Linked DNA regions of Homo sapiens: all the other regions are linked to region 3. The links come from fine-mapping of genetic effects on gene expression. A gene starts in region 3. Each other region holds a variant in brackets. All regions are shown on one strand. Distances are from middle to middle. Region 1 holds the start of LOC105375426 (a long non-coding RNA gene). Region 2 has its middle 22 kb from the start of MUC3A. Region 3 holds the start of UFSP1 (UFM1 specific peptidase 1).

Region 1 (10,164 bases), 620 kb after region 3:
GAAAATCATAAAATCATTAGTGGGTGTTTATCTCAAGGTGCCTACGAGGCTTGCTGCGGACGGCCTGGAATTGGGGGGGAAACGGGGGGTAGGCGAGGGCCAGGGAGGGGCTACAGAGGACGTGATTCTTTCTCCTTGGGGTCCTGGAAAGGGGGTGGGGGGATGTTTTGCCCAACCGTAGAAGGGGAGGAGCAGGCATGTTTATGCATCTGCCTTGAGGCTGGGCTTGGATGCTGCTGGGGGAAAAATAGTTGAAGGCCTTGGAAGGTAACAGATGGAATCACACACACACACACACAGACACTCACTCTCTCTCTCACTTGGATTTTCCCTATGCCAGGTAAGGGTTTGACATTGTGAGCCCCGGTGGGTGCTTGCATTAGGGTTTTGTTGTTGTTGTTTAAGGACCCTGAGCCGAGGGGAGTGTGAGTGCCAGCTAGCTGCTGTAACTTAAGTCTCATTTGCCCACGATTGTGACTGTTAAAAAGGAATGATAAAGTTGTTACTGGTTGGTTTTTCGCGGTTTGGGGCGGTGGTGGCTCTCCCTCACTGCAAAATGAATGAATACGTTTCGGGTCAAGGTTAGCGTGAAAATGACAGCCCCTGTAGGCTGCCCCCTTTGGCACTGAGCTCAAGGGACACAGGGAAATAATTCCATCCCAGCCTGTTATCTGCCTGTGAAAAGTTCTGGCTTGGAAATCTCACTTTGATGTGTGTGTCTGAGCCGGGTGCTCAGTCCGGCTATTGTTTGCGAGATGGAGCCAGACCTGCCGGTGGCATCTTGTTTACTTTCTTCTCCGGCTGCTCAGTAGGGGATGGAGATTTGAAATAGTCGCCAAGCCTCTGCCACGGAGCCTGTGCTCCCCGTTGATTGCAAAGGGTAATGATTAAACAGGTCATTTGAAAACAAAAGCCAACAGCTCGGATTCTGAACCGCGCCCCCACCCCTCACACAAAGCCCCCTCTGGCTGTTGACACCTTCAGATCCTGCTTCTGCCTGCCCTCTGCCCCCCACTCCCTAGCCGGGCTGGACGTTCCAAGGCTTGGAGGTAACAGAACAGCCTTGTTTTTCCAAGTCTTGGCCCTCAGCCCTGGGCAGCCCCCTGGCTGATTTCTCGGCCACCATTCAAATGAGGATGATGACTCAGGCTGCGGCTGTGCACAGGGCCTGGGTGCTGGAAGGAGGGGGCATTTGGGGGCTTCTTAGAAAGGCAGCAAAGGGCAGGGTCCCTCAGCCCCTTTCCCTTGGTGGAGAGACTGGCCTTCTTCCAGCCCCCAACTCAGGGTCCCCTTTGGGTACTCATGGATAGGCGTGTCTCTGGGGTCAAGCCCCCCTGCTGGCCTCTGGGAACACAAGAAAACCTGTCCCTCAGTGGGTCCCCCTTCCTCCCTCCTGCAGAAAGCAGCCTGTCCTGTCCCAGGCCCAGGTGACCCAGCTGACTAGTCCAGTTTCAAGATGACTCAGAGGCCAAAGGCCATCTCTGTTTCCATGGTCCGGCCTCAGAAGGTGCGGAACATTCGTCAAATGCCTGAGGACCTGCCACCCCAAGCACTCTGAGCCCGGATCGTGGCTTCAGGTCATGTGTGACCAGAGCCCGCTGCCTGCGTGGCTGAGGCAAAGTCTCTCCTCTGGCTCACACTTTGTCCGTCTGTAAAATAGAGATAGCACTACTTGGCCCCCTCATGGACACAGAACTGCTGTGTGGATGGTGTGGGACGATTGTGGGAAATGGCTTTTTAGCAAGTGTTAATGGGTCGCAGCCTGCGAACATAGCATTTAAACTGTTTTCAATAATCAGCCATCCAGGTAGAACCCCTTAGATTCTTCCTGTAATACCTGCCCCCAGGTGGTGACCCATAGCTCTGTCACCTCCCTCTCCAAAACCTACGTTTAGCCCAGACTAGGACAGCATGCCCTGAGGGTCCCTGTGCCACCTGTTTACTTTTCTTTTTTTTTTTTTTGAGATGGAGTTTTGCTCTTGTCCGGGCTGGAGTGCAGTGGTGCCATCTCAGCTCACTGCAGCCTCCATCTCCCAGGTTCAAGCGATTCTCCTACCTCAGCCTGCCGAGTAGCTGGGATTACAGGCATGCACAACCACGCCTGGCTAATTTTGTGTGGAGACGGGGCTTCTCCATGTTGGTCAGGCTGGTCTTGAACTCCCGACCTCAGGTGATCCACTGGCCTCCACCTCCCAAAGTGCTGGGATTCCAGGCGTGAGCCACCACTCCCGGCCCGGTTACAGTTTTGTCAGTCACTCTATAGCATCAAATCGTTGACATGGCATTCGAGGCCCTTTGGGATCTAGATCCTGAATCCTCATCTTTATTTTTTTGTTTTTTATTTTTCTCTTTTAGAGACAGAGTCTTGCTCTGTCGTACAGGCTGGAGTACAGTGGCGCCATCATAGATCAATACAGCCTCCAACTCCTGGGCTCAAGCAGTCCTCCCACCTCGACCTCCCAAAGTCCTGGGATTACTGCTCCTGGCCTTGAATCCTCATCTTTAGCCCTCCCCCAGCAAATACACAATTTCCCTTATTGTTCCCTACATACCTCTGTGCCTTCGTATCTACCTCTCTTCCATCTGCCTGGAATATTCTCCCCCATCCACCCCTAGTAAATTCCTATTCAATCCTCAAGAGCTAATGATAGCACGCTGAAACCTTCCTGAACCTTTCCCTCCGCCCCTTAGCAGACTTAAGTCACTTCTCTCTCGTGCAGTGGAGTTGTGGAAAGGGAATGGCATTAGGAAACATTCACTCTGTGTGGGGGTGTGGCTGGGTCCAAGGGATGCAGAGATACCTTGCCCCTTCCTCTGCCAAGCCCTAGAGCCTGGTGGAAGAGAAAGAAAGAGGCCATCACTCTACAGCAGGGTGGAGTCAGGGAAGGGCTGGTCTAGCAGGGTACCTAGAAGGCTGGGTGCCTACCTGTAGGAGGTGGCACTAGATCTTAGAGCTTTTTGTTTGTTTGTTTTTAAGAGATGGGGTCTCCGTTGCCCAGGCTGAAGTACAGTGGCACCATCATACCTCACTGCAGCCTCGAACTTCTAGGCTCAAGCAATCCTCTCACCTCGGCCTCCCAAGCACCTGGGACTGCGGGTGCGCACCACCACACTCAGCTAATTTTTAAATTTCTTGTAGCGATGGGGGTCTCACTGTGTTGCCCGGGCTGGCCTTGAACTCCTGGCCTCACATGATCCTCCCACCTCAGCCTCTCAGAGGTGCGTGTGGACATAACATTTAAACTGTTACAGGCATGAGCTGTTGGTCAGGCTGGTCTCGAACTCCTGAACTTGTGATCCGCCCATCTGGGCCTCCCAAAGTGCTGGGAGGCGTGAGCCACCATGCCTGGCCAGTGAACACTAACGTCTTAAGAGGCATTTATGAGAGAAAAGCTTAAAATTGCAAAAAGTCCATGCAGAGCCCTCGTCATTCCTCGGAGCACATTGGGCTGAGGCCACTGTCTGATTGCCCTTTAGGGAAAGACAGGCTAGCCCAAGGGAGTTAGAGCCCTGGGACACCTCGGCTGGAATCCCAGCACTGCTCATCCTGGCTGTGTGACCTTGGGCAAGTTGCTTGACTTCTCTGTGCTATGTTTCTTACCTGTAAAACAGGGATGATGATCATGCCTGCAACCTAAGTGGTTGTGAGGGCTTGATGAGATAAACCACGCCAAGCACTCTCAAGAGTATCTGGTCTACTAGAAGCTCCAATAAGCATTTTTTTTTTTTTTTTGAGACAGAGTCTTGCTCTGTTGCCCAGGCTGGAGTGCAGTGGCATGATCTCAGCTCACTGTAACCTCTGTCTCCCAGGTTCAAGCGATTCTCCTGCCTCAGTTTCCCAAGTAGCTGGGATTACAGCTCTCTACCACCATGCCTGGCTAATTTTTGTGTTTTTAGTAAAGACACCTGGAACTCCCAAAGTGCTGGATTACAAGTGTGAGCCACTGTACCCAGCCATTAAGCATTAACTGGGAAGGCCCTGGGGCCACTGGCCAGCACCAGTTTGTGAGGGCAGAGCCAGAAAAGCCCAGGCTTAGAAGACTTTTTACACACACACATAACGCATCCTGATTCTGGAAAGTGGAGATGCTGTCACTGCTCTCACAGAACTAAGCCAAGGACCTCACCTGTCATTTAGGTGTCAGGCCTCTGGCAGGGGCAGCCAAAATGCTCTAGGACCACAGAGCTGCAAGCCAGTAAGGCTTCCTAGAGGAGGCGGCATCATCTGATCCAAGAATGGGGTGATGGGTGGCATGAGAAAATGTCAGGAGGTGCTGGGGATAAAGCAAGATGAGCAAGCAGAGAACAGGAGTGGGTGGGTACAGATGGATCAGGGGAGGGGTATGGGTGAAGAGTGTACAGGGTGAGCCCCAGAGCCGTGCGTGTGCCCACTCAGGACAGCCATAGTCTGCTGCTGCCTAGAGAAAGGGGCTGGCTCAACCCTAGCTCCCAAATCTTTTTCCTATGACTTTTTCCTTTGTCCTTATCTCTTTCCTGAACTATCCAGATATCTTCCTGCCTCCTGCCTCTAGGGCAGCCCAAATGCTCATTGCTGCCCCATCCCTCTGGGCTGAAGGAGCAAACGCCTGGAGGCTGGAAAGAGAAAGGTGTCTGCAGGGAACAAGCCGCTGTCCTGTGGTGGGTGCAAATTGGTATGCTCTGTTCACGCAGAAACCCAGCAGTGTGTACCTGCTGTAGGCAAGGCCTAATAGGAAGCGCGAAAGGAGTTTCTGTCCCATGGGAGGAAAAGACGTGAGTCCTGTGTGTTCTCCAGCAAAGGTAGAGGGTGAGAGGACCAGAGGCCCGCACAGGGGGCATGGCTGGGAGTGCAGGGGCAGGGGGGGAGTCCGGGAGGATGGAGGGACACAACTGGAGTGGGTGCTGGGTCGACTTCATGCATTCCTTCAGAATCCCTGGCCACATCTCTGCCTTGTTGGTTTTGTTTGTTTTTTCAGACAGGGTCTCACTCTGTCACCCAAGCAGGAATGCAATGGCGTGATCTCAGCTCACTGCATGCAATCTCTGCTTCCTGGGTTCAAGTGACTCTTGTGCCTCAGCCTCCCGAGTAGCTGGGATTGCAGGCATGCACCACCATGCCTGGCTAATTTTTTGTATTTTAATAGAGACGGGGTTTTGCCTTGTTGGCCAGGGTGGTCTCAAACTCCTGACCTCAGGTGATCCACCCACCTTGGCCTTCCAAAGTGCTGGGATTACAAGCGTGAGCCACCACTCCCGGCCTGAATTCTTTCTTGATCAGATGTCTTCTGTCTATCCACTCTGGCTCTGTCTACTCCCTTCCCAACACATGCTCTATTTTAGGTAACCATGGTAGTTTTGTTTTGTTTTGCTTTTGCTTTTGTTTTTGGAGATGGAGTTACACTCTGTCTCCCAGGCTGGAGTACAGTGGCACGATCTCGGCTCACTGCAACCTCTGCCTCCTGGGTTGAAGTGATGCTCCTGCCTCAGCCTCCTGAGTAGCTGAGGTTACAGGTACCACCACCATGCCTAGCTAATTTTTTGTATTTTTAATTCAGATGGGTTTTACCAAGTTGGCCAGGCTGGTCTTGAACTCCTGACCTCAAGTGATCTGCCCGCCTTGGCCTCCCAACGTGCTGGGATTACAGGCATGAGCCACTGCACCTGGCCAACTGTGGTAGTTTTTAGATTTTTTTGTACAGAGGGGGTCTCACTCTGTTGTCCACGCCGGTCTCAAACTCCTGACCTTAAGTGATCCTCCCTTCTTGGTTTCCCAAAGTGCTGGGATTACAGGCATGAGCCACTGCTCCCAGCTGCTGGTGGTTTTAAAAGCTAGGATCGGCTGGGC[G/A]CCGTGGCTCACGCCTGTAATCCCAGCACTTTGGGAGACCGAGGAGGGCAGATCACAAGGTCAGGAGATCGAGACCATCCTGGCTAACACGGTGAAACCCCGTCTCTACTAAAAATAGAAAAATTAGCTGGGCGTGGTGGCGGGCGCCTGTATTCCCAGCTACTCAGGAGGCTGAGGCAGGAGAATGGCGTGAAGCCGAGATCCCGCCACTGCATTCCAGCCTGGGCAACAGAGCCAGACTCCGTGTCAAAAAAAAAAAAAAAAAGCTAGGATCCCTCCACCCCCCTCTCCTTTAAATGTCTGTCTTGGCTACTTTCTTCTAAGTCACTAGGAGATGGTAAAAGCAATACCGCAAGACTTCCGAGGCTAGGGCACAAAACGATAGCTTCTGCGTGGCGCTCCCTCTCTCCCAGATCCCTTGCTCTGTGGGAAACCAACCCCCAAGGCCTGAGGACACCCAAGCAGCCCCATGGAGAGGCCCATATGGAGAGGAACTGAGGCATCCCACCCTCAACCGGCAGAGCGGGGCTTTGAAAACAGATCCTTTCGCCCCAGGCAAGCCTTCCAATGGATTGCAGCCCCAGCCAATGCCTTGAACTGCCAAGTTCAGCCACACCTAAATTCCTAACCCATAGGAACTGTGAGAGATAATAAAAGTTTGTTGTTGTTTCAAGCCACTAAGATTTGGGGTAATTTGTTATGTAGCAACAGATAAGGAATGAAATGACCCTGCCATTTATCATTGAGACGGGAACAAACATTTTTTAGAATAGCAGGAAGTACTTAAAATAATTACTAGGTTGGCCAAGTGCAGTGGCTCATGCCTGTAATCCCAGTATGCCTGTAATCCCAGCAAGCCTGTAATCCCAGCACTTTAGGCTGATCGCTTGAGCTCAGGAATTGGAGACCAGCGGAGGCAACATGGTGGGACCCCGACTCTGCAAAAAATACAAAAAAATTAGCTAGGTATGATGGCGCCTGCCTGTGATCCCAACTACTTAGGAGGCTGAGGTGGGAGGATTCCTTGAGCCTAGGAGGTAGAGGTTGCAGTGAGCCGAGATTGCACCACTGTACTCCAGCCTGGACAACATAATGAGACTCTGTCTCATCATCATCATCATCATCATCATCATCATCTTAACAATAATAACAACAACCTGCAGACAATAGGGCAAACCTGACTATGTGATCATGCTACCTTTAGTCCAGCCAGAGAACTCTCATGAGTCCTTAAACCTAACACAGACACTTCTTGAGGTCGGCTTCAGCATCCTCTCCTCCAGGAAGCCACCCTGGTGCCTGGTGAGTGGCTTCCTGGGATCACCCATGCCTCAGGGTGCAGGATGAGAGGGCTGGTCCTGATCCCCTTCTGTCCTCACCCCCAGGTCCATGTCCAGGGCTTAGGACCGGTCGTCCCTCGGTGTTGACTTATCTCCCAGGGATCAAAAAAGTCAGTTGTAGCTGGGCGCAGTGGCTCACGCCTGTAATCCTGGCACCTGTGGGAGGGCCAAGCAGGTGCATCACCTGAGGTCAGTAGTTCGAGACCAGCCTGGCTAACAAGGTGAAGCCCCGATTCTACCAAAAATACAAAAATTAGCCGACGTGGTGGCGGGCGCCTGTAATCCCAGCTACTCAGGAGGCTGAGGCAGGAGAATCACTTGAACCCAGAAGGCAGAGGTTGCAGTGAGCCAAAATCATGTCACTACACTCCAGCCTGGGCGACAAGAGTGAAACTCCATCTCAGAAAAAACAAAAACAAAAACAAAAAAACCTTGTAAAAGGTTTAATTGGTCTCTTCTGAGCCTGCACACAGCTGGAAAGGTTTTCTCTTATAACAGATCTGCAGTATGAGAAACCAGCCCAGTTGCATCCGCGCTGGGCCAGTGGGATTCTGGGTGTCCAAGGTCCCTGTGGGCCATCCACGGTGCTAAATTAAAACTTTTTGAAAAACATTCTTTTTTTTTTTTTTTTTGAGACAGAGTCTGGCTCTGTCCCCCAGGCTGGAGTGGAGTGGTGCGATCTTGGCTCACCACAAGCTCTGCCTCCCGGGTTCACACCATTCTCCTGCCTCAGCCTCCCGAGTAGCTGGGACTACAGGCACCTGCCACCACGCCCGGCTAATTTTTTTGTATTTTTAGTAGAGACGGAGTTTCACCATGTGAGCCAGGATGGTCTTGCTCTCCTGACCTCGTGACCCGCCCGCCTCGGCCTCCCCAAAGTGCTGGAATTACAGGCATGAGCCACCGCACCTGGCCTGAAAAAAATTCTTGAGACAGGGTCTCACTGTGTCACCCTAGTTGGAGTGCAGTGATGCAATCCCAGCTCACTCCAGCCTCGATTTCTCAGGCTCCAGCAATCCTCCTGCCTCAGCCCCACTGAGTAGCTGGGACTGCAAGCACTCACCACTACACCCAGATAATTTTTGTTTTTTTTGTAGAGATGGGGTCTTGCTATGTTGCCCAGGCTGGTCTCGAACTCCCGGACCCAAGTGATCCTCCTGCCTCAGCCTTCCAAAGTGCTGGGATTACAGGTGTGAGCTACGGTGCCTGGCCTAAATGGAAAACTGGTGTCTAGGTGCCATATATACTCAGGCTTGCCCTCACCATAACACATTGAACATACTCCAACCTCTGAGCTAGATCTCTGCTCGAAAACCTGAGGTTTTGCTTGCACACCCCAATTTTTTTTTTTTTTTTTTTTTTTGAGACAGGGTCTTGCTGTCACCCAGGCTGGAGTGCAATGGTGCGATCTTGGCTCATTGCAACTTCCATCTCCTGGGTTCAAGCGATTCTGGTCCCTCAGCCTCCCGAGTAGCTGGGATTACAGGTGCACGCCACCACACCTGGCTAATTTTTGCATTTTTAGTAGAGATGGGGTTTCATCATGTTGCCCAGGCTGGTCTTGAACTCCTGACCTCAAGTGATCCACCAGCCTCGGCCTCCCAGAGTGCTGGGATAACAGGTATGAGCCACCGCGCCTGGCCATGCACCCACATTTACAGCAACCTTATTCACTAAGGCCTAAAGGTGGAAGTGACCCAGGTGTCTACTGATGGATGAACAGATCAACAAAATGGGATGTATTCACACAGAGGAATATTATTCAGAGGGGAAAAAGGAAGGAAATTCTGACACATGCTACAACATGAATGAACCTTGAAGACATCATGCTGAGTGAAATAAACTAGTCACAAAAGAACAAATACTGCATGAGATCCCACTTGTATGAAATACCTGGTGTAGCCGGAGTCATAGAGACAGAAAGAATGGTGGTTGCCAAGAGCTGGGGAGTTGGTGTTTAGTGGGTATGGAGTTCCTGTTGGGTAAGATGAAGAGTTCTAGAGATGGATGGTGGCAGTTGCTGTCCGTATTGCAAACGTGCTTAACACGATTGAATTGCACACTTAAAGATAGTTAAGATGGTAGGTTTTGTTGTGTGTATTTTACAACAATTAATAAAATTTGAGGCCAGGCGTGGTGGCTCATGCCTGTAATCCCAGCACTTTGGGAGGCTGAGGCGAGTAGATTGGTTGAGCTCACAAGTTGGAGACCAGCCTGGGCAACATGGTGAAACCTCATCTCTACAAAATATACAAAATGTAGCTGGGCATAGTGGCATGCACCTGTGGTCTTAGCTACTCAGGAGGCTGAGGTGGAAGGATCGCTTGACCCCAGGAGGTGGAGGCTGCAGTGAGCCGAGATTGTGCCACCGTACTCCAGCCAGGCAGTAGAGCCAGACCTTGTCTCAAAAAAATAAAAATTAAAATTAATGTTTAAGATTTTATTTTATTTTAGATTCAAGAGGTACACGTGCATGTTTGTTACATGCATATATGGCATACTGGTAGGGACTGGGCCTCTAGTACGCCCATTACCCAAATAGTGAACATTGTACCCGATAGGTAATTTTTTTAACCTTCCTCCCCTTCCCAACCTCTATTGGAGTCCCCAGTGTCTGATGTTCCCGTATTTTTTTTTTTTTTTTTAGACACGGTCTTACTCTATCGCCCAGGCTGGAGTGCAGTGCAATCTCAGCTCAATACAGCCTCTGCCACCTGGGCTCAAGTGATCCTCCTGCCTCAGCTTCCCGAGTAGCTGGGACTACAGGCATGTGCCACCACACCCAGCTAATTTTTGTATTTTTTAGTAGAGATGGGGTTTCACCATGTAGGCCAGGCTGGTCTCGAACTCCTGACCTCAGGTGATCCACCTGCCTCGGCCTCCCAAAGGGCTGAGATCATAAGCGTGAGCCACTGCTCCCAGCCATGGCAGTTCCTTCTCGAACACCCACTATGCATGAGGCCTCCGCTGGGAGTTCCCATCATTCACCCTCATAGCAGC
Region 2 (10,164 bases), 38 kb before region 3:
TCACCACGTTGGCCAGGCTGGTCTCAAACTCCTGACCTCATGATCTGCCTGCCTCGGCCTCCCAAAGTGCTGGGATTACAGGTGTGAATCACCGCACCCGGCCTCTTGAAAGTATTTTTACTAGGTATAGAATTCTAAGTTGACAGTTTTTTTTTTTTTCAGCACATGAATAAGATTCCATTGTCTTCCGGCTTCAAGGTTGCTATACAGAAGACTGAGCTTAATCTGTCAGGCCTTTAATTTTTTTTCTCTTGCTGCTTTAAGACTTTCTGTTTCGTTAATATTCTGAAGCTTCACCAGGATGTTTCTGGGCATGGATTTCTTTGTATTTATCATGCTTGGGATTCCTTGGCTTCTCAAAGCTGATAAGGTCTCTTCTCAGTTTGGGAAACTTGCCAGCCATTCTCTCTTCACATATTTTCTCTTCCCCCGTTAACTCTTTTCTCCAGGAACTGCAATTAAATAGAGGTTAACCCTTCCCTTTCTATTCTTCATGTGTTTTTAACTACTCTTCCGTATTTTCTGTCTCATAGCTGCTCATGAAGCATGTGGTGAGTTTCTTCTGTTCTCTCAGTTTACAGATTCTCTCTTCAGCTCTGTCTAATCTGCCACTAAAACCTCCTAATAAGTTTGTTTGTTTTTTTTTTTTTTTTTTTGAGATGGAGTCTCTCTCTGTCACCCAGGCTGGAGTGCAGTGGCACGATCTCGGCTCACTGCAACCTCCGCCTCCCGGGTTCACACCATTCTCCTGCCTCAGGCTCCTGAGTAGCTCGGACTACAGGCGCCTACCACTGCCACCACACCCAGCTAATTTTCCTTCGTACTTTCTTAGCAGAGATGGGGTTTCACTGTGTCAACCAGGATGGTCTTGATCTCCTGACCTCATGCTAATAAGTTTTTCAATAAACAAATCTACATTTTAATAAGTTATTGGATACACACATGTATTTATTACTGAAAATGGAAATAACATATCAAAATATCCTCCTTTCGCTATTCAAGTTTGTTGGGTTCTTTTGTTTGTTTTTTGAGACTGAGTCTCATTCTTTTGCCCAGGCTGGAGTGCAGTGGTGCCATCTCAGCTAACTGCAACCTCCACCTCCCAGGTTTAAGTGATTGTCCTGCCTCATCCTCCTGAGTAGCTGGGATTACAGGCATGCACCACCATGCCTGGCCAATTTTTGTATTTTTAGTAGAGACTAAAAATAGTTTCACCATGTTGGCCAGGCTGGTCTCAAACTCCTGACCTCAAGTGATCCGCCCGTCTTGGCCTCCAAAAGTGCTAAGATTGCAGGCATGAGCCACTGCACCCAGCCTCAATATTCAAGTTTTTTTAAAGGTAAAGACACATCTAGCTACATGTACCCTTCTCTAATGTTATGCTTTATCCAAACTACCCAATGTAAACTCATTTTATATATTCCTTCCACATAAATTTCTTTACTTCAAGTGTTTGATGTTAGGTCTGCTCTCATCTCATTGACTTCAGGATTCTAAACCATACATGTAATCCATGAGAACTTGTACTACCTGGAGCCAAATCAAAAACTAGAACTGAGATACCAAAGCATCAAATTACAAAGAGGGACAAAGGGAAAAAAAAAAATTTACGTAGTCAAAATCATATTTTGAGTTATTAAAAATTATTGGATTTTTGCTGGGCACAATGGCTCACGCCTGTAATCCCAGCACTTTGGGAGGCCGAGGTGGGCAGATCCTGAGGTCGGGAGTTTGAGACTAGCCTGGCTAACATGGTGAAACTCCATCTCTACTAAAAATACAAAATTAGCCAGGCGTGGTGGCATGTGCCTGTAATCCCAGCTGGTCAGGAGGCTGAGGCAGAAGAATCACTTGAACCTGGAAGGCAGAGGTTGCAGTGAGCCGGGATTGTACCACTGCACTCCAGCCTGCGTGGCAGAGTGAGACTCATCTCCAAACAATAACAATAAAAATAAAAATTATTGGATTTATGCTTTCACTTAGAGTAAAAAAGCCACAAGAGGCTGGGCATGGTGACTGACACCTGTAATCCCAGCATTTTGAGAAGCCAAGGCAGGAGGATCGTTTGAGGCCAGGAGCTCAAGACCAGCCTGGGCAGCCTAGCAAGGCCCCCATCTCTACAAAAAGTGCAATAAAATTAATACATAAAATAAATCCACAAGAGACTATCACTCCTACCATAAAAAGAAGAAAAAGCTGGGTAATCTATAGGTTTTGGCATTTCTTGAGCCCATCAGAAATTTAGGCTTCAAGGCAACCAGGTGAACTGAGGTCCAAAGAGTGACCGCACCCTCTCAGGAGAGACAGGACACATGAAAAGTTCCACCTTTGTCAGAGCACAGGAGGAAGAAGTGGCCACCAAAAAAGCAGGTGATAGGAAAACAACATTTTAATGAATTCTCAGAGGCCAGGAGTGGGCCAGCATGACAACTTAGAATCCCCCTGGGTGCATCAGGATCTAGCAGACCCCAAGTTCACTCGCAATCTCTTTTCCACCTCTTGGTGCTCATGAGAAAGATTGGAGGTACAATGAGACAAGAAAGAGGCTCCCTCAGTGGTTCTCAGGCATGAACCCCCTCCTACCTCCCAGAACCTTGTCTCACAAGAAGCAGAAGGACTTAAGCCTCAGGGGAAGGGGCAGGAATCCTTCCCATCCCCTGAGGACAGGCAAAGGTTCACTCCTGGTGGAAGTAAGGGTACAAGTAAGGCCATGTATTTCTGGGGGAGGGATAGGACCAGCCCCTCATTACATGGTGAGGGAGGGTTGAAGCAAAATCTGCCCCCTTGGGAGGGGCAGGAAATCTCCTGGCTAAATCACAAGCTTTGCACCTGTAAACCAAAAAGAAAATTCTAAGCCCCCCAACCTACTGAGCGGACTCCTTCTCGCCAAGGGCATTCCAAAGTAAACCTGCAAAACTAGTTCAGGCCATGATGGGAAGGAGTGTTGGACATGCCTCATTCTGCCCTCATCTCTTTGGAATTCAGGCACAACTGACCAGCATTAACATCAACACAGAGATCTTAAGGCTGACAAAACAGACTCTTTGTAGCAATAAGATACCAAATTCCAACCTGACTGAAGTACAGCATCACATGACAGATAGCAGGTCCTGAAAGAAACAGAAGTATTTTACCCCAAAATAAATTTTTCTTTGACATATTTTGAAACAGCCCTGCAAATCTGTCTCTTGTAGGGAAAATCTACACTGTGTAGAGAGTCCCCTTCCCTTTCCAGGTCTTCTCCTGATTCAGGAGAGATATAACTAAGAGTCTGGCACCTTTTTAAGTCTGATGAGAAACACTTACCATCTATTCTCTCTGAAGCCTGCTACCTGGAGGCTTCATCTGCATAACAAGAACCTTGGTCTTGGCTCATGCCTGTAATCCCAGCACTTTGGGAGGCCGAGGTGGGCAGATCACAAGGTCAGGAGATCCAGACCATCCTGGCTAACATGGAAAAACCCTGTCTCTACTAAAAATACAAAAAATTAGCCAGGTGTGGTGGTGTGCACCTGTAGTCCCAGCTACTCGGGAGGCTGAAGCAGGAGAATCACTTGAACCCGGGAGGTGGAGGTTGCGGTGAACCAAGATTGCGCCACTGTACTCCAGCCTGGGCAACAGAGCGAGACTCTGTCAAAAAAAAACAGGTGGTCTCCACAACCCCTTATCTTTTTAAAAAATGTTTATTTTATGTGCAAAGAGCTATCATGGTTTTTTGGGGTTTTTTTTGTTTGTTTGTTTGTTTTTGACGGAGTCTTGCTCTGTTGCCAGGCTGGAGTGCAGTGGCGCTATCTCAGCTCACTGCAAACTCCACCTCCCGGGTTCAAGTGATTCTCGTGCCTCAGCCTCCTGAGTAGCTGGGATTACAGGCATATGCCACCACGCCCAGCTAATTTTTGTATTTTTAGTAGAGACGAGGTTTCACCATGTTGGCCAGGATGGTCTCGATCTGCTGACCTTGTGATCTGCCCACCTTGGCCTCCCAAAGTGCTGGGATTTCAGGCGTGAGCCACCGTGCCCGGCCACTATCATGGTTTTTCACTGGGTACATGCGTTGGATAAACCTTTCAAGGAAGGTCAGTTAGTGCAACTTAATGAAACCGATATCTTTCCTGTACTGACGGAAACACTGGCAGTACATATTGAGGGCATATTTACAGATCAGACCATGCCGATTTGGGCCGATGTGACAAGAATGAAAACCCTGGCCGAATATTCACTGGTGGCTCTAGTACAGCTGCTGGTGACCCATCTTGCTCTCAGAAGTGCAACAAGGTAAAAGGCCACAACCTCTTATTTTTAAACCAGACACGCCTTTCTGTTGATTCCAGGTCTTTAGATCATAACTTTACTCTTTCGACCAATTTCCAATCAGAAAATCTTGGAATTTACCTATGATCTGGAAGTCCCCCTGCCCCACACCCCAAATTGTTCCATGATTCCTGAGTGAACAAATGTACACTTTACACGTATTGATTGACGTATGCCTGTAACTTCCATCCCTCTAAAACGTATAAAATTGGCCGCAGGGGCGCACACCTGTAATTCCAGCAATTTGGGAGGCTGAGGTGGGCGGATCACTTGAGGTCAGTTTCACTTGAGTCCGTGTGAAGAGACCACCAGGTTTTGTGTGAGCAATAACGCTTTTAATCACCTGGGTGCAGGCGGGCTGAGTCCGAAAA[G/C]AGAGTCAGTGAAGGGAGAGAGGGGTGGTCAGTGAAGAGAGAGTCAGTGAAGGGAGAGCGGGGTTTTATAAGATTTGGGTAGGTAAAGGAAAATTACAGTCCAAGGGGGGTTGTTCTCTGGTGGGCAGGGGTGGGGGTCACAAGGTGCTCAGTGGGGGAGCTTTTGAGCCAGGATGAGCCAGGAAAAGGAATTTCAGAAGGTAATGTTATTAGTTAAGGCAGGAACAGGCCATTTTCACTTCTTTTGTCATTCTTCAGTTACCTCAGGCCATCTGGATTTATACGTGCAGGTCACAGGGGATATGATGGCTTAGCTTGGGCTCAGAGGCCTGATTTTCCTGTCTTCTTATATTAATAAGAAAAATAAAATGAAATGGGGTAAAGTGTTGGGGCGGCGAAAATTTTGGGGGGTGGTATGGAGAGATAATGGGTGATGTTTCTCAGGGCTGCTTCGAGCGGGATTAGGGGCGGCGTGGGAACCTAGAGTGGGAGAGATTAAGCTGAAGGAAGATTTTGTGGTAAGGGGTGATATCGTGGGGTTGCTAGAAGAAACATTTGTCGTGTAGAATTACTGGTGATGGCCTGGATATGGTTTTGTATGAATTGAAAAACTAAATGGAATAAGAGAAGGAGAAAAACAGGTATCAAAGGACTAAGAATTGGGAGGACCTAGGACATCTAATTAGAGTGCCTAAGGAGGTTCAGCACAGCCTTGCCAGCAAAGATTATTTATTTACTTTAAGAGTTAAGAGAGGCGGTTTGGGGATAGCACCAGGAGATACCAGCTGTGATGGCTTGGAGAAACAGTGTAAACTGGCAGTGTAAACAAGAGCAGGGCATTTATGAGTAGTTGAGAACAGTGAATAGGAGTATCACTAGACAGAAGATAGTAGGAATGACAAGTTTTTGGGGGCACAGTCTAAGTTGGTCTGGTGTCTGGAATAAGACTGGGGCCTAATAAAAAGGAGTGTCTATACAGGAGCTTAACTGGGCTGTACCTTGTAGCATTGTGAGGACAGGCCTGAATTCTGAGAAGGGCAAGTGGTAAAAGTATTGTCCAGTCCTTTTTAAGTTGGTGGCTGAGCTTGGTAAGGTGTGTTTTTAAAAGACCATTAGTTCACTGAATACTAAGAGCCTGAGAAACTGCTTGGGTGATTTGACTAATAAAGGCCAGTCCATTATAGGACTAGAGGTGGGAAGGCCAAACCGAGGAATTTTGTCTAAGAGAAGGGAAGAAATGACCGTGGTGGCCTTCTTAGACCCTGTGGGAAAGGCCTTTACCTATCCAGTGAAAGTGTCTACCTAGACCAAGAGGTATTTTAGTTTCCTGACTCGGGGCATGTTGAATAAAGCCAATTTGCCAGTCCTGGGTGGGGGCAAATCCCTGAGCTTGATGTGTAGGGAAGGGAGGGGGCCTGAATAATCCCTGAGTAGTAGAATAGCAGATGGAACACCGAGAAGTTATTTCCTTGAGGATAGATTTCCATGATGGAAAGGAAAGGAGAGGTTCTAAGAGGTGGGATAGTGGCTTGTTCTATAGCATAGCCTGCCTTTACTGGTGTGTGGTGATTAGGCCTGGTGGAACTGCCATCAATAAACCAAGTGTGATCAGGGTGAGGAACAGGAAAGAAGGAAATATGGGGAAATAGGGTGAATGTCAGGTGGATCAGAGAGACACAGTCATGGAGGTCAGGTGTGGTATCAGGAATAAGGTGGGAGGCCAGATTGAAGTCCGGGCCAGGAACAATGGTAATTGTGGGAGACTCAACAAAGAGTACAGCTGAAGGAGCCAGGGAGTAAAAAGTATATGTGTCAGGTGTGAGGAAGAAAATAGATTTTGGAAGTTATGAGAACTGTAGAGAGTGAGTTGAGCATAGTTTGTGATTTTAAGGGCCTCTAAAAGTATTAGGGTGGTGGCGGCCGCCGCACGCAGACTTGAGGGCTAGGCAAAACAGTAAGGTCAAGTTGTTTGGATAAAAAGGCTACAGGGCGCAGTGTGGGTTCTCGTGTAAGAATTCCAACTGCACAGCCCTGCACTTCGGCTGTGGGTAATGAAAAGGGTTGGGATGAGTCAGGGAGAGCTAGGGTGGGGGCAGTCTCTAAAGCTGTCTTCAAGGAATGGAAAGAGGAGTGGGGAAAGGATTTAGGATCTATGGGGTCAGCTAGGTTTCCTTTTGTGAGTTTATATAATGGTTTTGTTAGGATGGCAAAATCAGGTACCTAAAGTCAAAAGTATCTAACCATGACTAGGAAGGAAAGGGGTTGTTGTTTTGTAGAAGGTGCTGGGGTTTGAGAGATCAGTTGGAAACGATCAGCAGGGAGAGCATGTGTGTTTTTATGAGAATTATGCTGAGATAGGTAACAGATGAAGAAGAAATTTGGGTTCAACTGAAGGAATGGGGGCTGTCTGTGAAGCCTTGAGGCAGTACAGCCCGGGTAATTTGCTGAGCCTGATGGGTGTCAGTCAGGCCAAGTGAAAGCGAAGAGAGGCTGGGATGAAGGGTGCAAAGGAATAGTAAAGAAGGCATGTTTGAGATCCAGAACAGAATATTGGGTTGTGGAGGGAGGTATTGAGGATAGGAGAATATATGGGTTTGGCACCGTGGGGTGGATAGGCAAAATAATTTGGTTGACAAGGCGCAGATCCCAAACTAACCTGTAAGTTTTGTCTGGTTTTAGAACAGGTAAAATGGGGGAATTGTAAGGGAAGTTTATAGGCTTTAAAAGGCCATGCTGTAGCAGGCGAGTGATAACAGACTTTAATCCTTTTAAAGCGTGCTGTGGGATGGGATATTGGCATTGAGCGGGGTAAGGGTGATTAGGTTTTAATGGGATGGTAAGGGGTGCATGATCGGTCACCAAGGAGGGAGTAGAGGTATCTTATACTTGTGGGTTAAGGTGGGGGGATATGAGAGGAGGATGCAAAGGAGGCTTTGAACTGGGGAAAAGGGCAGCAATGAGGTGTGGCTGTAGTCCAGGAACAGTCAGGGAAGCAGATAATTTAGTTAAAATGTCTCAGCCTAATAAGGGAACTGGGCAGGTGGGGATAACTAAAAAAGAGTGCATAAAAGAATGTTGTATAAGTCGGCACCAGAGTTGGAGAGTTTTAAGAGGTTTAGAAGCCTGGCTGTCAATACTCACAACAGTTATGGAGGCAAGGGAAACAGGCCCTTGAAAAGAAGGTGATGTGGAGTGGGTAGCCTCCGAATTGAGTAAGGGGACGGACTTACCCTCCACTGTGAGACTTACCTAGAGCGTCTGTGATGGTCCTGTAGGCTTCCAAGGCGATCGGGCAGTGTCAGTCTTCAGCCACTAAGCTGAGAAGATCTGGGAAGGAGTCAGAGAGCCTTGGGCCAGAGTTCCAGGGGCTCTGGAAGTGGCTGCCAGGTGAGTTGAACAGTCCAATTTTCAGTGGGGTTCCACACAGATGGGACACAGCTTAGGAGGAATCCTGGACTGTGGGCATTCCTTGGCTCAGTGGCCAGATTTCTGGCACTTGTAGCAAGCTCCTGGGGGAGGAGGTTCTGGAGGAATCCCTGGCAGCTGCGGTTCAGGCATTTGGAGTTTTCATGTGCTGGAGATGTGGCTGGGGTTTGTCTCACAATGGAGGCAAGGAATTGCAACTCAGAAATACATTGCTACTTGGCTGCCTCTACTCTATTATTGTACACCTTGAAGGTGAGGTTAATTAAGTCCTGTTGTGGGGTTTGAGGGCCAGAATTTAATTTTTGGAGTTTTATTTAATGTCAGGAGTGGATTGGATAATAAAATGTATATTGAGAATAAGATGACCTTTTGACCTTTTAGGGTCTAGGGCTGTAAAGTGTCTCGGTTGCTGCCGAACAAGCCATGAACTGGGTTGGGTTTTTCATATTTGATGAAAGAGCCTAAATGCTAACTGATTTGGGAGAGTTCAGATAAAGAAAAAGGAGCATTAACCTTGACTATGCCTTTAGCTCCAGCCACCTTTTTAAGAGGAAATTGCTGGGCAGGTTGGGGAGGGCTAGTCGTGGAATAAAACTATAAGCCAGACTGGGTGTGAGGAGGGGAGGTGATAAAAGGATTATAGGGTGGGGGAGCAGAGGCTGAGGAAGAATTAGGACCTGGCTCAGCCTGGCGAGGAGCAGCCTGGGGAAGAGGGGAGAAGTCAGATGGGTCTGTAGAAAAGGAAGATTAGAAAGACTCAGCAACGCCTGGGGTTGGGACTGAGAGGACAGGCAGGAGGGAAAGAAGGAGGATTTGGGACAAGTCACATTGGGAACAGACAGTAGGAAGGGAACAATGTGTAAAAGAATGCCTGGATGTCAGGCACCTCAGACCGTTTGCCTATTTTATGACAAGAATTATCTAGATCTTGTAGGATGGAAAAATCAAAAGTGCTGTTTTCTGGCTATTTGGAACCACTGTCGAGTTTGTATTGGGGTCAAGCAGCATTGTAGAAGAAGATAAGGCATTTAGGTTTAGGTCAGGTGTAAGTTGAAGAGGTTTTAAGTTCTTGAGAACACAGGCTAAGGGAGAAGAAGGAGGAATGGAGGGTGGAAGGCTGCCCATAGTGAAGGAGGCAAGCCCAGAGAAAAGAGAGAGTAGAGACATAGAGAGAAGGCGTCAGGGGTGCTTGCCCCCTAGGAAAGTGGAGAAGGGGTAGAGACATGGAGAGAAGGGTTCAGGGGGTTCTTGCCCCTCAGAAAAGTGGAGAAGAGGTGGAGACACGGAGAGAAGGGGTTGGGGGATTCTTGCCCCCTAGAAAAGCAGAAAAGGGGTAGAGACACAGAGAGAAGGGGTCAGGGGGTTCTTGCCCCCCAGAAAAGCGGTACTTTCCACTAAGGGTGAAGGACCAAGGCAGGCATCCCCACATGGTCAGACACCTCTGAAATGTGGGTGAATAATCAGGCAGGCATCCCCGTGTGATTAAACACCAAGGGAGACTCTCTTCCTGAGTCTGTGACCAGTGCCGGAGTTTTGGGTTCATGGATAAAATGCATCTCCTTTGTGTCTACCGGAAAAGGAAAGGAACTGAAATTAAGAGAAGGGAGAGACTGAAGTGTGGCACCAAGATTGAAAGGAGAAAGAGGTTGAGGGATACTAAGAGAGGTTGGAGAAGGGAGTGAAAAAAGGCCACTTACCCGATTTAAAATTGGTGAGATGTTCCTTGGGTGGTCAATCTGAGGACCCAAGGTCGTAGGTGGATCTTTCTCATGGAGCAAAGAGCAGGAGGACAGGGGATTGATCTCCCAAGGGAGGTCCCCCGATCTGAGTCACGGTACCAAATTTCACTCACGTCCGTGTGAAGAGACCACCAAACAGGCTTTGTGTGAGCAATAAAGCTTTTTAACCACCTGGGTACAGGCAGGCTGAGTCCGAAAAGAGAGTCAACGAAGGGAGATGGGGTGGGGCCATTTTTTAAGATTTGGGTAGGTAAAGGAAAATTACAGTCAAAGGGGGGTTCTCTGGTGGGCAGGGGTGGGGATCACAAGGTGCTCAG
Region 3 (10,160 bases):
GGGAGGATGCAGAGCTGCTGGTGACGGTGCGTGGGGGCCGGCTGCGGGGCATTCGCCTGAAGACCCCCGGGGGCCCTGTCTCTGCTTTCCTGGGCATCCCCTTTGCGGAGCCACCCATGGGACCCCGTCGCTTTCTGCCACCGGAGCCCAAGCAGCCTTGGTCAGGGGTGGTAGACGCTACAACCTTCCAGAGTGTCTGCTACCAATATGTGGACACCCTATACCCAGGTTTTGAGGGCACCGAGATGTGGAACCCCAACCGTGAGCTGAGCGAGGACTGCCTGTACCTCAACGTGTGGACACCATACCCCCGGCCTACATCCCCCACCCCTGTCCTCGTCTGGATCTATGGGGGTGGCTTCTACAGTGGGGCCTCCTCCTTGGACGTGTACGATGGCCGCTTCTTGGTACAGGCCGAGAGGACTGTGCTGGTGTCCATGAACTACCGGGTGGGAGCCTTTGGCTTCCTGGCCCTGCCGGGGAGCCGAGAGGCCCCGGGCAATGTGGGTCTCCTGGATCAGAGGCTGGCCCTGCAGTGGGTGCAGGAGAACGTGGCAGCCTTCGGGGGTGACCCGACATCAGTGACGCTGTTTGGGGAGAGCGCGGGAGCCGCCTCGGTGGGCATGCACCTGCTGTCCCCGCCCAGCCGGGGCCTGTTCCACAGGGCCGTGCTGCAGAGCGGTGCCCCCAATGGACCCTGGGCCACGGTGGGCATGGGAGAGGCCCGTCGCAGGGCCACGCAGCTGGCCCACCTTGTGGGCTGTCCTCCAGGCGGCACTGGTGGGAATGACACAGAGCTGGTAGCCTGCCTTCGGACACGACCAGCGCAGGTCCTGGTGAACCACGAATGGCACGTGCTGCCTCAAGAAAGCGTCTTCCGGTTCTCCTTCGTGCCTGTGGTAGATGGAGACTTCCTCAGTGACACCCCAGAGGCCCTCATCAACGCGGGAGACTTCCACGGCCTGCAGGTAACTAGTGGCTAGCTGGCGTGAAGCTGGCTCCTCTGGGTCCCAACGGTCCCTCCCCTCCCTGCAGGGACCCAGGCATGAGGGCTTCTCCAGGCCCATTCCCAGAAGTCCCAGAAGTCCTCCCTGAGGGCTCAGATCCCAGGGTGGTCAGCAGGGCAGACAGGAAAGCCACCATGGGTCTATTTTCTCTTTCTCTGCATCCCTCCCCTGATCTCGTCCTCTCTCTGTCCATGGTTCCGGGTCTGTAACTGTTCATCTCTCTGGCTCTTTGTCTGTCCATCTGTTTCTGTCTACTTGTCTGTCTGTGCCTGTCGCTCCATCCCACCCCCCTCTCCCTCACCCCCAGGTGCTGGTGGGTGTGGTGAAGGATGAGGGCTCGTATTTTCTGGTTTACGGGGCCCCAGGCTTCAGCAAAGACAACGAGTCTCTCATCAGCCGGGCCGAGTTCCTGGCCGGGGTGCGGGTCGGGGTTCCCCAGGTAAGTGACCTGGCAGCCGAGGCTGTGGTCCTGCATTACACAGACTGGCTGCATCCCGAGGACCCGGCACGCCTGAGGGAGGCCCTGAGCGATGTGGTGGGCGACCACAATGTCGTGTGCCCCGTGGCCCAGCTGGCTGGGCGACTGGCTGCCCAGGGTGCCCGGGTCTACGCCTACGTCTTTGAACACCGTGCTTCCACGCTCTCCTGGCCCCTGTGGATGGGGGTGCCCCACGGCTACGAGATCGAGTTCATCTTTGGGATCCCCCTGGACCCCTCTCGAAACTACACGGCAGAGGAGAAAATCTTCGCCCAGCGACTGATGCGATACTGGGCCAACTTTGCCCGCACAGGGTCAGCAGTGCAGAGGGAGAGAAGGCTGGGGAGGACAGGAGTCGGGGGCGGGAGGACACACAAAGGCAGACACACGGAGACAGAAAGGACGGGTGGGACAGGGGCAGGATAGAACAGCCAGAGAGGGATATGCTCACAAAGTAGATAAAAGGGGAGAGAAAAAGAAAGGAGACAGAGAAGGCAGAGGGGGTCTTGCAGAGACAGAGGCAAAGGAAAGTGAGGAGGAGACGAGGTAGACATGGAGGGGGCGGGGCACAGTGGCTCACCCCTGTAATTCCAGCCCTTTGGGAGGCCAAGGTGGGAGGATCCCCTGAGGCCAGGAGTTTGAGACCAGACTGGACAACATAACAAGACCCCGACTCTTAAAAAGAAAAAAAATACAAAACTTAGCCAGGCACGGTGGCTCGTGCCTCTAGTCCCAGCTACTTGGGAAGGTGAGGCAGGAGGATTGCTTGAGCCTGGGAGGTTGAGGCTGCAGTGAGCTATGATGGCACCACTGCACTCCAGCCTGAGTGGCCCTATCTCTGGAAAAAAAAAAAAAAAAAAAAAAGGGAGACCAAGACAAAGGAGTTGGAGCTGGATTAAGTCAAACCAGTGATGATTCACTAGCAGTGACACATTCTCTCACACACACACCAGTTTACCTGGATCGAGAAGAGGACAATGAAATCTAGCATTGGATGGGTGTTGTTAAAAAATGTGATGTTTGTAGACATAGGACCCGTCCTGGTTATTTAGGAAAGTCTCAAGACATCCTAGCCATTTTTTTAGTGAGAGAAACAAAGATGGAACAGAAAAGCTGAGGGAAACGGAAGGAGACGGAGCGCTTGAGGAAGGGAAGACCCCAATGACCGCGCACATTGGAGAAAGTGGTGGGAGGGAGGGGACGGGTTCTCTGGGGCTCTCCGCTGAGCTGAAGAGTCCGGGATCCCGTGGAGTTGGGGGCCACCTCCTCCCACTGCCCGTCTGGACTGAGCCTTCCCTTCCTTCCGCAGGGATCCCAATGAGCCCCGAGACCCCAAGGCCCCACAATGGCCCCCGTACACGGCGGGGGCTCAGCAGTACGTTAGTCTGGACCTGCGGCCGCTGGAGGTGCGGCGGGGGCTGCGCGCCCAGGCCTGCGCCTTCTGGAACCGCTTCCTCCCCAAATTGCTCAGCGCCACCGGTATGCAGGGGCCAGCGGGCAGCGGCTGGGAGGAGGGGAGTGGGAGCCCGCCAGGTGTAACCCCTCTCTTCTCCCCCTAGCCTCGGAGGCTCCCAGCACCTGCCCAGGCTTCACCCATGGGGAGGCTGCTCCGAGGCCCGGCCTCCCCCTGCCCCTCCTCCTCCTCCACCAGCTTCTCCTCCTCTTCCTCTCCCACCTCCGGCGGCTGTGAACACGGCCTCTTCCCCTACGGCCACAGGGGCCCCTCCTCTAATGAGTGGTCGGACCGTGGGGAAGGGCCCCACTCAGGGATCTCAGACCTAGTGCTCCCTTCCTCCTCAAACCGAGAGACTCACACTGGACAGGGCAGGAGGAGGGGGCCGTGCCTCCCACCCTTCTCAGGGACCCCCACGCCTTTGTTGTTTGAATGGAAATGGAAAAGCCAGTATTCTTTTATAAAATTATCTTTTGGAACCTGAGCCTGACATTGGGGGGAAGTGGGAGGCCCCGGACGGGGTAGCACCCCCCATTGGGGCTATAACGGTCAACCATTTCTGTCTCTTCTTTTTCCCCCAACCTCCCCCTCCTGTCCCCTCTGTTCCCGTCTTCCGGTCATTCTTTTCTCCTCCTCTCTCCTTCCTGCTGTCCTTCTCCGGCCCCGCCTCTGCCCTCATCCTCCCTCTCGTCTTTCGCACATTCTCCTGATCCTCTTGCCACCGTCCCACGTGGTCGCCTGCATTTCTCCGTGCGTCCTCCCTGCACTCATACCCCCCCTTCAACCCGCCCAAATGTCCGATCCCCGACCTTCCTCGTGCCGTCCTCCCCTCCCGCCTCGCTGGGCGCCCTGGCCGCAGACACGCTCGACGAGGCGGAGCGCCAGTGGAAGGCCGAGTTCCACCGCTGGAGCTCCTACATGGTGCACTGGAAGAACCAGTTCGACCACTACAGCAAGCAGGATCGCTGCTCAGACCTGTGACCCCGGCGGGACCCCCATGTCCTCCGCTCCGCCCGGCCCCCTAGCTGTATATACTATTTATTTCAGGGCTGGGCTATAACACAGACGAGCCCCAGACTCTGCCCATCCCCACCCCACCCCGACGTCCCCCGGGGCTCCCGGTCCTCTGCATGTCTCAGGCTGAGCTCCCTCCCCCGCGGTGCCTTCGCCCCTCTGGGCTGCCAATAAACTGTTACAGCCACGGGAGTGTGCGCGACTAGGGAGCCAGGGGTAGAGGCAGAACGCCGGAATCACGGGGGCCGAGTCTATGCAGGAGCGGGGCTGGAGGGCAAGAAACAGGCGAGCTCCGAGGCGGGCGCAAGGCAAAGGCCAACCCCTAGCCCTGCCCTGCCGGGCGGAGCTCGCGCCTGCGTAATGAGGCCCGCAGGCAGGCTAGCTGGCACGGCGGAGGGGAGGAGAGGGGAGGGGAGGGGAGGGGAGGGGAGGGGAGGGGCGGGGCGGGGCGGGGCGCGGCGGAGCATTGTGGGAGCTCCTCGGTCGGTGCCGGTCGGTGGCTGCCTATTGCGGCCTGCGGTGATCAACGAGGCCCGGGGAGCGCGTCCCCAGTCTGCGCGCCGGTCCTGCGGCAGCTGGCCCAAGACCCGGAGCCGAAAGGAAGTGTTGGAGCCTGAGGTCGCTCCGCGCCGCTAGGAGGACGCTGTGCCTGGCCTGGGACCTCCGCTCCCGCCCACCGCCCTGGAGCCGCTGAGGGACGTCCACGTGGGCCTGTCCCCGCCGAGCCGCGGCCCTGTCCGCCTGGCGCTGCTCTCGGGCCACTACCTCTACTACCACTACGGCTGCGACGGCCTGGACGACCGCGGCTGGGGCTGCGGCTACCGCACTCTGCAGACGCTGTGCTCGTGGCCAGAGGGCCAGCCCGCGGGCGTACCTGGACTGGCCGCCGTACAGGCGGCCCTGGAGGACATGGGCGACAAGCCCCCCGGCTTCCGGGGCTCCCGGGACTGGATCGGCTGCGTGGAGGCCAGCCTCTGCCTCGCTCACTTCGGAGGGCCCCAGGGACGCCTCTGCCACGTACCCCGGGGAGTGGGGCTGCACGGGGAGCTGGAGAGGCTTTACTCGCACTTCGCAGGGGGTGGGGGCCCAGTCATGGTTGGGGGGGACGCAGATGCCAGGTCCAAGGCCTTGCTGGGAGTCTGCGTAGGGTCAGGCACGGAAGCCTATGTCCTGGTATTGGACCCTCACTACTGGGGCACTCCAAAAAGCCCCAGTGAACTACAGGCTGCTGGGTGGGTGGGCTGGCAAGAGGTGAGTGCAGCCTTTGACCCCAACTCCTTCTACAACCTGTGCTTGACCAGCCTTAGCTCCCAACAGCAGCAGCGCACCTTGGACTGAGGACGAAGTTACAGAACTGAGATTCTCGGGTCCCAGACACGCACCTATGTACCTCCCACTGGTGTCCCTGCAAAGCCTGGCGCTTTTGACATCAATAATAAAAGTGGCAGGGCTGAGCAACACCTCAGGAGTTACTCTGGAAGGATGGAGGAGTTATGTAACACACGAGAGTCAGGAGCCCTGTGGAAGTGCTTTTATTAGCAGTAAGGCTGATCGTACAAAAAATTCTCAGAGCTTCATAGGACAAGGTAGTACAAGTATGGATGATACAGGACTGAGGAACGGGGGACGGCTCAAAAGAAATCAACATCGTCTGGGGCATCCAGGTCCCGATATTCCACAATGGCCCTTGGGTCTCCACGAACCATCCTGTGAGGTGAGAGGTACAGGATGAGAGCTGAGGGCTCCCAAAAGGGAGTCTGCAGGCGGCAACAAAGCTTGGGCGTCTGCCCTCCTCACCTGTTGCGAGGTTTCCCAGGATAACCTCCCTGGCCTCGGAAGGCATCATAGTTCCCTCGACCAGCACCATACGGGGCATGGGGGTATGGAGGGCCTCCTGTGGGGACTGCAGGGCGGACAGCACCAGCTATGACAGAGATCAGTGTTGAGTTGCAAAACTATGTCCTCAATTCCATCCTCTGTTTTCTTCTCCCAAAGCCACACACTCACCAAGCCCCTTCATCTCCCTCCTGTACTTACCTCCATAGCCCAAGATCGGGGGCCGGGGCTGACCATAGGGCATCAGGCCCTGGGGAGTCTGGTGTGGGTAGGGGAGTCCTGGGGTCAAACCTGGGGGGAGTACAACACGGACAGGGACATGAATTACTGCGGGGGCGGGGAGGGGGATACGGGTACAATTGACTTCTAGGGCTATGGCCTGAGGATGGGGCAGAAACTTCTCGGGGTGACACGTTAAAGAGAAACAGGAGTCCCTGGGTAGTCAAGGAAGAGGGCACATGCGACCTTCATGGATCGTATCTTACTCTGGGCGGGGCCAGGTGGCTGGGCTGGCTTGATCTCAGGCAGAGCTGGGCGCTTAGCATCAGTGAGGAAGTTGTTAAAAAACGCGACTTCCTTTTTCACTTCCTCAATTTTCTCTGCATGCTTGTTGAAGATATGTTTGCGCACAAACTCAGGACCCTGGGTGGAGAGAGGAGAGGGGTCAGGACAGCCACATAAGGGTTGCCTCGCTCCCAGGCCCGAGCTGGAAGGATTCCCAGCTCCCGCCTGCCAGTGCAGTAAGCAGTTCCCCCACCCCTGCCCAGGGGGCTTCCTGTCTCAACCCCACCTCCCACCACCGTAGCACGGCCATTCTCCAACATCCCACACCTTGAATTTCTTGCCACTGAGAGGACACAGCCACTTATCCTTGCCCAGTTCCTGCGTGTTGGAGGTGACGAACTTCTCCACTTCCTGCTCTGGGTCTTTGCGCCCCATCTTCTGGGCCTCTTCCTCTGAGAGTGACTCCCGCACACTCAGCAACGGCGTGAGCTTCTCCTCAAAAGTCTTCTGCCACTCCAGCACTGTGGTTTGGGAACAGAGGAAGGAAGGTTGGCAAGGGAGCCAGAAGGAAGGATGGTGGCAAGGGGCTGGAGGACCAAGGCCAGGGGCAGCCGGGAACAAAGGGGAACCTGGAGCTCACCTTCCCCGTGACTGATGCGGTTGGGTGGCATGGGCCCCCGAACGTGGATGATCCCACAGCGATTGGGCATCTCGTCCTCGTTGGGGTACTCACAGGTGTTGTAATAATCCAAGGAATGCACGATGCGCAGGTAAAGGAGGAGCTTGTCCAAGACCTAAGGGAAGTGAATGCGAGCGTTCAGCTCCTGCCCTCACCGCCCGAGCCCCCACGTGCCCCGCGCTGCCACTGGCACCTTAATCAACTTCTCATCCCGCTCCACGTTGATCTCTGCCGGGTTCCCTTCCTTAGGAGGCTCCTCAGGAGGAGCGCCCCCGCTGCTCCCCAGCAGCTCCTCCTCCTCGGCGCTTACTTCCTCGATCAGGTAGTCGGTGATATTCTTCAAGATCGGGTTTTGCGAGGGCAGGCTCTGATGGGAGGAAGAGAAGCAAGTAAGGCAGAGAAGACCTTCAGAGGAGGTAACCTGAGACTTTCCACAAGTGAAAGAGCAGCGAGGGGACAGGAGTTCACCGGACATAAATGGCACCTTTTGCCCCCTTGAGATTTGTCTTTATTTTAGCTTTTGTTCCACCCCAGCCACAAATGATCACTAGCATCCCCCCAGTTCTGCTGGAATCTGGAGGTGCTGCTACCCACACACGAAGGGGCAAATGAGTGAGCAGGCGAGTGGGTGCAAGGGTTCAAGGCTACAGATAGGTAAGGTCAGAGGTGCCCACAGCAGAGGCACTACCAGTTGCTTCTGACAAAGTCCTTTGGGGAGTCACTGACCGTGGGCAGGGGAGGCGTCCCTGGTTCTGAGGCCCAAAGCTGTGTCCTGTCATCCAGCGTGTGGATCAGCTTGGCCGCCAGCTTGATGTCGTTGCGCACAATCTGCTTGTGCTGGGTGATGCCGTTGATGTTGCGAACGCGCCGGGTCAGGTCCCTGTTCACACCAGGGCTCAGCTCACACTCCCGGAGCTGGAGGGCAGACATCATCAGCAGCTTACCCCACTTACCCCGCTTGCCAGAGAAACAGCAGCTCTAAGACCCTTCCCTCTTGAGCACCAGCGATTGATCAGACTGCGAGCTCCCTGGGGACGGGGACCACATAGGTTCCGTCCATGCTAACGCCCTAGAGCCTTGCCCAGAGACAACGTAGCCAGACAAAACGGTCAAAGAGTGTGCAGAACAACCAAACTATCAGATGAACAAAGTCACACAGAGGTCCCGTGTGGCACAGAGTCTCCCTTCCTCTTCCCCACAGTCCCACCCCCAGCACTCACACGGATGTTCTGCAGGTTCCAACAGATCTCTTTAATGTTAACACTGCGGTCGAAGGTCACCCAGCCACGACGGAAAAACCTACACAAGAAAGAAAATGTTAGCATAGTCAAGCGAGGGAGTTGGTGTTGGCCATTAACGTTCCCCTGCACTTTTCCCTCCAACGCACCGAGTTACTCACCTCCTCTCTGGCTGGGGCTCTGAGAGCGCCACCCGCATAAAGCCTGGGTACCTTTTACAAAGCTGCAAGAAGCAGAAAAGCAGCCCCACAGTGACTCAAGGATTCATTCGCTTCTTCCTCCAATCCCCCACTGCCCTCAGAACCCTAGGGACTAACTGCCTTATCACTCTTCCCATCCTTGGGCAGGGAAAAACCACTAAAGGGCTTCAGAACACCAGCACCTGAAAGCCAATGGCGCTATCAGGACTAGTCCTCGGAGGCCATGGAACCTGGGGAAGGGGCCTCCCTAGCAGGTGAAACGGGGGCATCTGTCACAGGCAGGGCCCCACTGCCTTCCCTCTACCCTCCACTTCTCCATCAGCCCTGCCCTGACTCCACGGGTCCCCACTCACGGAGATGATCTCGGCCCGGGAGATGTTGGGCGCGATGTTGCGCATGAAGAGGGAGCAGGTCTTATGCAGCGGCCGCGGCTTGCACTCCAGCCCCGCGGCGTCCTTGGGCTTCTCCCATTCTTCTTCCTTGGGCTTCTCCTTCTCCTTGAGCGCTTCTTCTAGGCAGGAAGGGGGGTAGGAAGGAGTTGGTGCATTTTTATTACTGATTGTGGTGGGGAGGATACAGAAGCTTTCCCCTAAAAGCCACCCACCCTCCCGTCAATGTCGCCAACCTCTCACCTCCCCACCCGCATTAGGAGAACGCACTTTAAAGCAGAAAAGAAACCCTACCGGCCTCCTCCTTCTCCTCCTCAGCCTGGCCGCTCTCTGACTCCGACTCAGACTCTGACACGCTGCCCTCGTCAAAGCTGTCGTCACCACTGTGCTTCCGGTTCCGCTTCTTGCTACTCTGTGTGAGCCACAGCAGAGGGGACAAGTCAGCGTGCCAGAACCCCAGCCCCAACACTCTGACCCCAGGCCACAGACACCTCACCTTTTTGGCTTCCTTCTCGGAGTCTTCTTTCTTCTCTTCCTTGTCCCCATCACCCTCCGACTTCTTTGTTTTGTCATCATTAGAACTGTCATTCTCAGCCTATGGTAAGAGACAACCACTGGGGATGTCAAACCTCCCCTCCCACCTTTATCAGAGGGCCCCCACCCCCACAGCTGAGGCCACAGGTTCATTTTCCCCAGCCCCCTACTTCTAGCTCCTATGGACCCCTACCCGCCCCCCTCCCCCAGGCTGCCAGGGACAACACTAGGAGACCCAGGGCTCGGACCTGCTTGCCGTCTTCCTTCTTCTCATCCTTGTCGTTGGTTTTGCGCTCCCCGTCCCCTAGGCCTGCTCCAGCCCGTCCTTCTTCTTTCTTGCTGGGCTCCCCAGGCTTTCCTGCCTGCTCCTCCTCCTCCTCCTGCTCCAGGATGCGAAGATCATTCTCCGTGCCTCCTTCCATCTTAATCACGGCTACCAACAAAGGGAACAGAGGTCATGACCCCAGGGCCCTGGCTCCTGTCAACCGGCTTCTACCTGATCCCCAGACACCCCCACCCCCATGGGGCCCAGATGCCTGCCACCCCTCCAAATCCGCACACCTGCATCCAGCATCTTGACAATGGCATCAGCTTTGTCTATGTCCAGGAGAAGGTTATCAAACCAGCCAGTCTCCATGAGGGACAGGAAGACCCTCAGTCGGTTTTGCAGGGCCCCCCGGGCCTCCTGCCGACGCTTCCCCACCTCATCTGGGTGGTACTTAGACCGAAACCTGGGAACGAAGCGGGGGAGGGAAAGACAAAACAGTTATTGGAAGCCAAGGCCAGGATGTGGGAAGGGGCCCAGGAAAGACAGGGCATATCCCCCTT

The links.
Region 1: its variant is fine-mapped to the expression of UFSP1 in breast (GTEx, PIP 0.96).
Region 2: its variant is fine-mapped to the expression of UFSP1 in whole blood (INTERVAL, PIP above 0.99).

What each region holds. Positions count from the first base shown.
Region 1 is chr7:100,261,204-100,271,367 of GRCh38, reverse strand. LOC105375426 (a long non-coding RNA gene) reads left to right here and starts at 3,884. Exons shown (of 2, transcript XR_927809.2): 1 at 3,884-4,752; 2 at 6,238-6,501. It also overlaps the pseudogene CASTOR3P. RefSeq lists enhancers at 521-1,042, 1,567-2,089. The variant G/A (reference allele first, on the strand shown) is at 5,825.
Region 2 is chr7:100,922,458-100,932,621 of GRCh38, reverse strand. It overlaps the pseudogene RPS29P15. Among named protein-coding and RNA genes, the nearest start is that of MUC3A, 22 kb to the left of the region's middle. RefSeq lists enhancers at 3,227-4,183, 4,184-5,141. The variant G/C (reference allele first, on the strand shown) is at 4,683.
Region 3 is chr7:100,883,973-100,894,132 of GRCh38, reverse strand. It overlaps UFSP1 (UFM1 specific peptidase 1), which reads left to right and starts at 4,418. Exons shown (of 1, transcript NM_001430944.2): 1 at 4,418-5,412. The coding sequence starts at 4,634. The coding sequence ends at 5,290. SRRT (serrate, RNA effector molecule) reads right to left here. Exons shown (of 20, transcript NM_015908.6): 6 at 9,894-10,063; 7 at 9,581-9,765; 8 at 9,295-9,393; 9 at 9,093-9,210; 10 at 8,763-8,920; 11 at 8,371-8,432; 12 at 8,192-8,270; 13 at 7,698-7,886; 14 at 7,165-7,338; 15 at 6,933-7,086; 16 at 6,620-6,813; 17 at 6,274-6,430; 18 at 5,990-6,091; 19 at 5,750-5,876; 1 more. The coding sequence ends at 5,584. ACHE (acetylcholinesterase (Yt blood group)) reads left to right here. Exons shown (of 5, transcript NM_000665.5): 2 at 1-968; 3 at 1,315-1,799; 4 at 2,795-2,964; 5 at 3,798-4,139. The coding sequence ends at 3,919. RefSeq lists enhancers at 700-1,438, 1,439-2,178, 2,459-3,191, 3,415-3,474, 3,192-3,925 and 1 more and silencers at 2,975-3,024, 3,096-3,253, 4,345-4,394.